2 linked regions of the Homo sapiens genome follow. The protein of the gene in region 1 interacts with the protein of each later gene in a biochemical or structural test. Each region holds a gene or a part of one and is shown in the gene's direction. Other genes may lie near its edges.

Region 1 (3,804 bases):
CCAGCTACTTGGGAGGCTGAGAGGTGGGAGAATTGCTTGAGCCCGGGAAGTCGGGGGTCCAGTGAGCCTTGATCACACCACTGCACTCCAGCCTGAGTGACAGAGCAAGACCCTGACACACACACACACACACACACACACACACACACAGATTAGAGCTGAAACAGGAGTAGAAACCTATCTGTATCTCTGATGAGATCAGATCTTTCTGATGAACAGAAAGAATGTAACCCCTGTACTCACACCCTCTCTGCTGGTTACATATGTTAACACGATTTCTCAAATGAGGCTTTTGGTTGCAAATAAGAGAAAATCACTCACGCTGGCCCTGTGTTTTTCAAATTGTTTATTGTGATCAACATTTGAAAAAAGAGCCGAGACTCTCAAGAGTGCATTACCCACGGTAAGGGTGAATTTTACTTCTTGACACTTATTTCTCTTACATGTATCTATCTGTCTCAAATGAAAAATATATTTAGAAAGTTGAAAGCTATCCAAGTGAGTATAAGAAAAGAGTATCTCACCCTGAAGGCTAAGGACAGGGAGGGCCACCAGGCCTCACGAGGACCCAGGAACCACAAAGAAGGCTAGGAAGGAGCACAGGCGGTGACCATACTCTGGCTCAGTGGCTATGTGGGCTCTGGTCTCTCTCAGCTGTTCCATGCATATGAGGCCAAATGTGGCTACCCTAGAGCTTCTGAGCCCTCAACAGAGATGAACTGGACTCTCTGCAGCCCCACTCTAAATTCCTAAGAGAGAAGTTGATTGACCCAATCAGGGTCAGGAGAAGGAAGGGAGGAGGAAAGGGAGGAGAGAAGAGCCTCTTCGTCTCTTGCCTACCACTGGCCAGGCAATTGTAGCCAAGGGGGCTGGAGTGTAAATGCAAACATAGCCATCAAGGGTTGTGTATGTGTGTGTGTGTGTCTGTGTGTGTGTATGTGTGTCTCTTGGGTAGGTTAGATCTCCCAGGAGGTCCCTACTAAACAGACTTAAGCCCGCAAAATTTTAGCTCTCCAGCCTCACACACTCCACCCCTCTACCATATTGAATCTTCCCAAACCAACTATGGCTTTCCCTAACTCCGGAGCTTGGCCTGGAATGCCCTGCTTCCCCTCTTTCCCCTGGGGAACGCCTGTCCTTCAGGCCTCAGTTCACACACTGCCTCCCTTGCAAAGCTCTCCTCCCATCCCCGGAGTCCCTCTTCCCCTTTGTTCTTTGGGTTCTATGCTTCTTCCCTCATAACTCCCACCAGGTTGTGTTAAAATGAGTTGTTCAAGGTCCTGTCTGTTCCACTAGATTCTGAGCAACTTGGAGAACGAAGATCCAAACTTCGCTGCCTTTATTTCCTCCTTTGTTCTTTTCTCATCCCCAAGTCCCTTCCAACTTGGAGTTATGAAGAAAGGAAGGAAGGAAGGGTGGGAGGGAAGAACAGGAGGGGATCCCACAGGAGAATGTGTATAGGGAGAGGACTCAGACTAGCTAAAGCTTTTCCCTCATAATTAATAGCAAATACCATGTTACCTGAATTTAATTCACAGTAGCATACAAAAGACTCGCTTTGTTCTCCCCATTGATGTCATCAGAGGGCTGTGGGCAGGCCTAATCTTGGCTCAGGAGGCCCTCCAGCCTGGATCTAAAGAGCAGCAGATGGGCCAGGCTCGGTGGCTCATGCCTGTAATCCCAGCATTTTGGGAGGCCGAGGCGGGTGGATCACGAGGTCAGGAGTTTGAGACCAGCCTGGCCAAGATGGTGAAGCCTCGTCTCTACTAAAAATACAAAAATTAGCCAGGTGCGGTGGTGGGCGCCTGTATTTCCAGCTACCCGGGAGGCTGAGGAGGCTGAGGCAGGAGAATCGCTTGAACCCGGGAGGCGGAGGTTGCAGTGAGCCGAGGTCACGCCACTGCACTCTAGCCTGGGCAACAGAGCAAGACTCCGTCAAAAAAAAAATAAAAAAATAAAAAAATAAAAAAAATAAAGAGGAGCACACATCTCTGCCCATCCTAACTCCCACTTTGACATTGAGGTCCCCAGGATGGAGGGTCTGCCTCCATCTGCCTTGTCCCCTGCAATGGTGGGAAGGTGATGGAGCTCAAGTCTAGAGGCCACCAGCTTCTTAGGGAGGTAGGAGGTGGAGGGTGGGGTGCGGGCCCTGCACACAACTGCCAAGTGAGGATGGGGGTGGGGTCCACCTGAGGATAAGTAACAGTGAGGCTGGTGCAGAGGACCCAGGTGGAGGTAGACAGCAGAATTTGTGGTGGGGTGGATGGCACATTATATAAGCCTCTCTTGCTGCCCTGTTTACTGAGATTGTTTCATTATCTTTTTTGGCTTTTGTTTTTAAGAGATGGGGTCTTGCTGTGTCACACAGGCTGGAGTGCACTGTGTGATCATACCTCACTGCAGCCTCGACATCCTGGGCTCAGGCAAACCTCCCACCTTGGCCTCCCAAGTAGCTGGGACCACAAGCGTTTGCCACCACACTCAGCTATTTTTATTTTTATTTTTATTTTTTTTAGAGATGGGGTCTTGCTGTGTCGCCCAGGCTGGTCTTGAACTCCTGGGCTCAAGCGATCCTCCTGCCTTGGCCTCCCAAAGCCCTGGGATTATAGGCTGAGCCACCACACCCAGCCACATTTCATCTGTGCAGCTCCAGGGGCTCCACATTCTACTCTTCTCATTTCTTCTCCAGGGTACCCATGGCAAGGGATGAGGGTAGAAGATGGGGCAGCCAGGCCTTGATTAAAGGAGAAGGAAGGCAGCCTGTGGAGAGGGCAGCCCAGGGAGTGCAGAGAGAAGTGGGCCATGAGGGAGACAGCAGAGTGCAGGCTGCGTCCCAAATGAGCATACAGCCCACTGTGAGCCCACCATCTTCCTAGAGACCCCTCTCCTCTCCAGGAGCTGCTTCAGTAGCACTCAGAGGAAAGAATGATGCTGTATCAACATTTCAGCAGCTCATCTTTTAACTCTAAGAAAATGGCAGCTCCTAAATGTTCAAAACTGCTTTGGAAACTTCTGGAGAGAGGTTTTGCAGCTCAGGCAGACAGCTGATCGCGGCCTTTCTTCCACCCCAACCCATGCTCTCCCCATGCTCTCCTGCCACAGCTGCAGCGGGCCCCTGGGTCCTACATTTGCAGCCCTTTGTCTCTGAGCTCAGACTTCCAATTCCAAGCGGCAGCTGGGCAGGCTCACCAGCATGTCCAGCCAGTACTAGGACATCAGCAGGAGCCCAACCACCTCTTTCCAAAATCTCTCCTCATGTCTCTCCTAGTTTCCATCTCCATCCTTCTAGTCAGCCAGGCTGAAAACATTTGCTCCTCAGGGTGCAGAAGGGAAAGCTTTGCCTCCCTTCCTGGTGCTCACTGCCCCTGCGATTCCAGCCCAAGCCCTCCCCGGCTCCTCACCCTGGTGTCAGCTGGAAGCCACCATCTCCTAAACCCACCTGTGTTCTTCCACCTCTGCCAGGGCTGCCCTCTCCTCCACCTTCACAAACTCAATTCCTACCCATTCTCAGGTCCCTTATCAAATGCCATCTCCTCCATGATGCCTCCCTGATTCCCCTGCTGGAAATAATGGTGATAACAGCTAAGGCATTGGGGTTGGCTACGTGCCAGGCAAGGAGTTGGCACTTTACATGCTTTATCTCATTTCAGCCACATAACATCGACAGGTGGCATTATGATTCATATCATCCCCATCTGATAGCCAGGAAAACTGAGTCCCAGAGAGGTTAGCCACTTTCCTAGGGCCCTGTGCTCTGACTCAAGCATAGCTCTGAGGAACTCTAGCATTCATCAGTTTAAGCAC
Region 2 (4,322 bases), on another chromosome or scaffold:
GCGGTGTGAAGTTCTGTGTTCTGAACTGGGGCTGAGCAAGATGCGATGGTCTCAGCCCGCTGGGCCGCCCGTAGCGACGGCAGGAGTAGGGGAGAGGGAGGGACGCTTGGAGTGTGAGCGCACCAGTCTGTTCATATTTAATTTACAAAGCAGCCTCGGAACCCCGGGCCGGGTGGTCTCTTTAGACGCTGCGCTCTTAGCCTGTCTCTCTTCCCCACCCCCTCCCCTAGCTCATTAAGATGCTCAACACTCAAATCGGGGTATTGATCTCCACGGAAGCCCCAAACCCTCGCCATCGAGAGACCCCCATGGCCCGGGGTGATGGCTGTGGGGCTTGGTGCTCCCAGAGAGCTCAGTGGCTACAGAATGGGTGGGGATTCTGCGTGTCTCCCGGAGCCTGAACCCCTTTCCTGGTTATGGCCGGTAGCTGTCTCCAGGGCTAACGTGGGCAGCGCAGGGGGGCGGAAACCGGGTTTTAGCCAAATGCCTCGACATCGCCGCGCCTCCGCCTCCTCGTCGCTGAAAGAAATGTCGGGGTTTCATCAGAGCTAGGGAGCGACAGTCGGGAACAGCGAGTCTGCCGAAGCCGGCTGTTGTGTGAGGGTGTGAGACGGCGGGGCGGTGAGGGGCCACCGCGGCTTGGGGGATAGTGCGTGTGGGGTTGACCGTGTGTCTGCTTGAGAGGCTGTGAAGATATGGGGGGCAGATATGGGAGAAATGCTCGGGCCTGAAGTCCCCAGCCCACCGTGCTCAAGAGTAGCGGACGTTTTGCCACCATCCTTGTCTGTGCTACTGTCTGCTGCAGCTTCCGTGCCCCGTTCTCCTGGAGCAGGCAAGACCTGGAGTGAGGTGCTTGGGTGCGCTCGAGAGAGCTTCCCCCTGCTCCACCTGTCCCGCGGTGCGCGCAGGCCAACGCGTCGGGCAGTGGGCTTCAAGCGCTGGTTTAGCCACAAAAGACCAGAAGTAAAGAGTTCCGGCTTAAGAGGCTGGGCAGGGCTGCGGTGGGCTGGGGAGGGGGGTGTCCCTTCCCAGCACGCCCTGCAGGGCTGTGCGTTCTGGTGTCGGGTTAGACTAGCAGGCGGGGCGGGGGGGTTGGGGCGGCGGGGCGGGGGAGACTAGGGCTTATATCAGCCCAGATCCAGGCAAAAATGGTAGGGAGGGTGCGGCGCTCTGCTAACACTATCAATTATGCATCATGTTGAACGTGGCTTCGGGGAGGAGGCGGCTAGCAGCGGGGGGTGCGGGAGGGAAGGGTCCGCGCGAGCTCGGCTGCGCGCAGCTCAGCGGGTCCCGCTCGAAGTCTGTCGGTGCCACCGCCTGCATTTGCAAAAAGAGTTTAAAGGCAAAGACACGCCTTCCCCCCCCACTTCAGCCGCGCGCCTTTCCTTCCCCCAAATTCCTCAAAGATGGTTTGTCTCACGTGTTGCAGGGCGTAAAAGCGGCTTGCATTCAATTAGCAGCGAAGCTCGCGGGCGCTGGCGGGACAGGCGCGTGAGGGTGAGTTCGCGTGAATGTGTGTATGCGTGTGCGAGAGGAGAACGGTAAGTGTCCCGGGTGCAGGTGTGCCCGTGAAAATGCGTGTGAATGTAGCAGGGGCTGAACACATTGATGCGATTATTACCTGACCATGGATGATTGTAAACTGTGAAGGTCGGCTATGGGGAGGGTGTGAGGGACTGTGTGCGCGAATGTGTTTGAACGTGGGGTGGGGGAGGTGGTGTGATCAGGGACAGTAACAATGCCAGCGGCTGTGTAAATGTGGGGGTACGTGGGTTATGGGGGTGCAGTAGGCTGCGAAGAGCCCAGCCAGGACAGTGGGCGTGGGATGCCCCTTATGACCGACGTGTCTTGGCCTTGGGGAGGGTCTCCGTGGCTTTAACAAAAGTAGACCAAGCAGGAGGCGGGAGAGGCTATGCGCGTCCCCGCCAGGCCCGGGAGTGCGCAAGGACTTTCTCCAACCTGCAGCCAGAGAGGTGGGGGAAACGGACGCAAAAGGAAAAATTGAAGTGGTACTTTGGGGCCACCAAGTCCCCAAACTTACCTGTCCCTTTCTTTGCCCCCCGCCCCCCGTTTTCCCCACAGCCACAACACATGCGTGTATCTTGCTTGGGCTATCTTCCCTGCTCTGCCACGCCGGGTCTGGAGAAGGGGTTTCAGCCCCAGGACATTTACTGAGAGTCGGCGAATATTGGGTAAGCAATGGGGGCCACCCCACAACCTTGACCCAGGTGGGGTTAGGTCCAGCCTAGGGCACCTGATGGGGTGCGGGGCTGGTGGGGGTGCTGTCTGGCAGGAACCGGGAAGGGAGGGAAGGGACCCTCCCAGAAGAGCAAAGGCAGAGTGAAGGAGCAGGTTCCCAAAGACAAGTTGTGGGAGGGGCTCTGCCAAACCTGACAGGCGCTCCAAATGGGGGCAGGGAGTCTGTGCAAGTTCGTTTGTGTGACCGGGCTTAAGGTGTTATGGGGAGGGGGTCCTTAGGCACCGCAGAGCTGTGGAGAAAGGCGCAGAATCTTTCATCTTCTCCAGCTTCATTAGCTAGTGGCAGCCCCATGACCTGTTGGCTGAGGACGCCTCTGCCCAATGGGAGCCGCCTGAGGGACCTGAGAGGAAGCTCTAGTGACCGCTTTCCCAACACACCTGGTCCAAACATGGGGGAGAACCTCCTTCCCCGTAAGGAAGGTTGGCAGAGCAGCCCTTCTTCTCCCCTCACAGGAGCTGCAGCCCCGGGCAGGTGACTTTGGCCTTAGATGCAGTAGGGCATGGGGATGGGCTTCCCCAGATCCCACATCTCAAGTCGTGCAGTGCAGGTCCTCCTATTGCTTCTCTGCTGGGTTTCGGTCACAGTGGAGGGCTGTATGCACACACAGGCACATGCCTGTGTTCTTGTGGGTGGGTCGGTTCGTGTGAGGACTTGTGTCCTTGTGTCTGTCAATTGTCACAATGGACAGGAAAGCGCTTTGTACCGTGGTGGAAAACACGTACAAATGCTGGTTAAGAGAACAATGAGGTCTGCAGGGTCTATTGTGTCCATGTCTGGGTGCATATGTGTTTGTGAGTTTAGGAAATGTGTTGTGAGCCTCCTAATTGAGCATCAGGTCCTCTAAACCCCTGCAGAAGTTGGCGGTTTGATTATGAAGCCCCGCGTCTGTTTGTATTGTTGTGTGCCTGCATGGGCGTGTGTGCGAGTGCTGTGCGTGGGACAAAGGTTCCAGGGAGGACAGCCAGTCACGGACAAAAATGTCCTTCTTGGGTAGGATCCATTTCACCAGGTTAAACGAAGGCTTAGAAACACAGAGAGGGGTACGTGAGGAGCCCGCTGGAGATGGGCGAGCTGCGGAGCCCACGGAGGGGCCAGCTCCAGCGTGAAGGAAGGAGTAGGAAGAGAAAAAAGGGCGATATACCGGGCCGCTGGAAAAGGAAATTAGGGCCCTGGGAGGGAGCATCCGTTGAACCTCGAGATTTTTATTGACCTTCACTTCAGAGAGGCTCCTGGCCATAGAGGAGGTTACCGGAGCCCTGGAACTAGTGCTAAACGGGCTTGCGGAGGCACAGCTTGATAGGGGAGGTAAGCTGGGGTTCAGTGAGTCACCTTCTTTCTTCTTCACCTGGCTTCCATCTGCAGGAGCCGCGATGTTCCCCCTTCGGGCCCTGTGGTTGGTCTGGGCGCTTCTAGGAGTGGCCGGATCATGCCCGGAGCCGTGCGCCTGCGTGGACAAGTACGCTCACCAGTTCGCGGACTGCGCTTACAAAGAGTTGCGTGAGGTGCCGGAAGGACTGCCTGCCAACGTGACGACGCTTAGTCTGTCCGCGAACAAGATCACTGTGCTGCGGCGCGGGGCCTTCGCCGACGTCACACAGGTCACGTCGCTGTGGCTGGCGCACAATGAGGTGCGCACCGTGGAGCCAGGCGCACTGGCCGTGCTGAGTCAGCTCAAGAACCTCGATCTGAGCCACAACTTCATATCCAGCTTTCCGTGGAGCGACCTGCGCAACCTGAGCGCGCTGCAGCTGCTCAAAATGAACCACAACCGCCTGGGCTCTCTGCCCCGGGACGCACTCGGTGCGCTACCCGACCTGCGTTCCCTGCGCATCAACAACAACCGGCTGCGTACGCTGGCGCCTGGCACCTTCGACGCGCTTAGCGCGCTGTCACACTTGCAACTCTATCACAATCCCTTCCACTGCGGCTGCGGCCTTGTGTGGCTGCAGGCCTGGGCCGCGAGCACCCGGGTGTCCTTACCCGAGCCCGACTCCATTGCTTGTGCCTCGCCTCCCGCGCTGCAGGGGGTGCCGGTGTACCGCCTGCCCGCCCTGCCCTGTGC

Evidence for each region.
Region 2: the proteins of LEP (region 1) and ISLR2 interact in a biophysical measurement, tested with the Homo sapiens proteins (one large-scale study listed by IntAct).

Annotation. Positions count from the first base shown.
Region 1 is NC_000007.14:128,244,132-128,247,935, forward strand, and holds part of LEP (leptin precursor), read left to right. Parts: intron 1-3,804. UniProt on the Homo sapiens protein: Key player in the regulation of energy balance and body weight control. Once released into the circulation, has central and peripheral effects by binding LEPR, found in many tissues, which results in the activation of several major signaling pathways.
Region 2 is NC_000015.10:74,129,125-74,133,446, forward strand, and holds the start of ISLR2 (immunoglobulin superfamily containing leucine-rich repeat protein 2 precursor), read left to right. Parts: upstream 1-1,461; 5' UTR 1,462-1,497; exon of another isoform or gene 1,498-1,650; intron 1,651-1,691; exon of another isoform or gene 1,692-1,973; intron 1,974-2,082; 5' UTR 2,083-2,192; intron 2,193-3,622; 5' UTR 3,623-3,630; coding exon 3,631-4,322. UniProt on the Homo sapiens protein: Required for axon extension during neural development.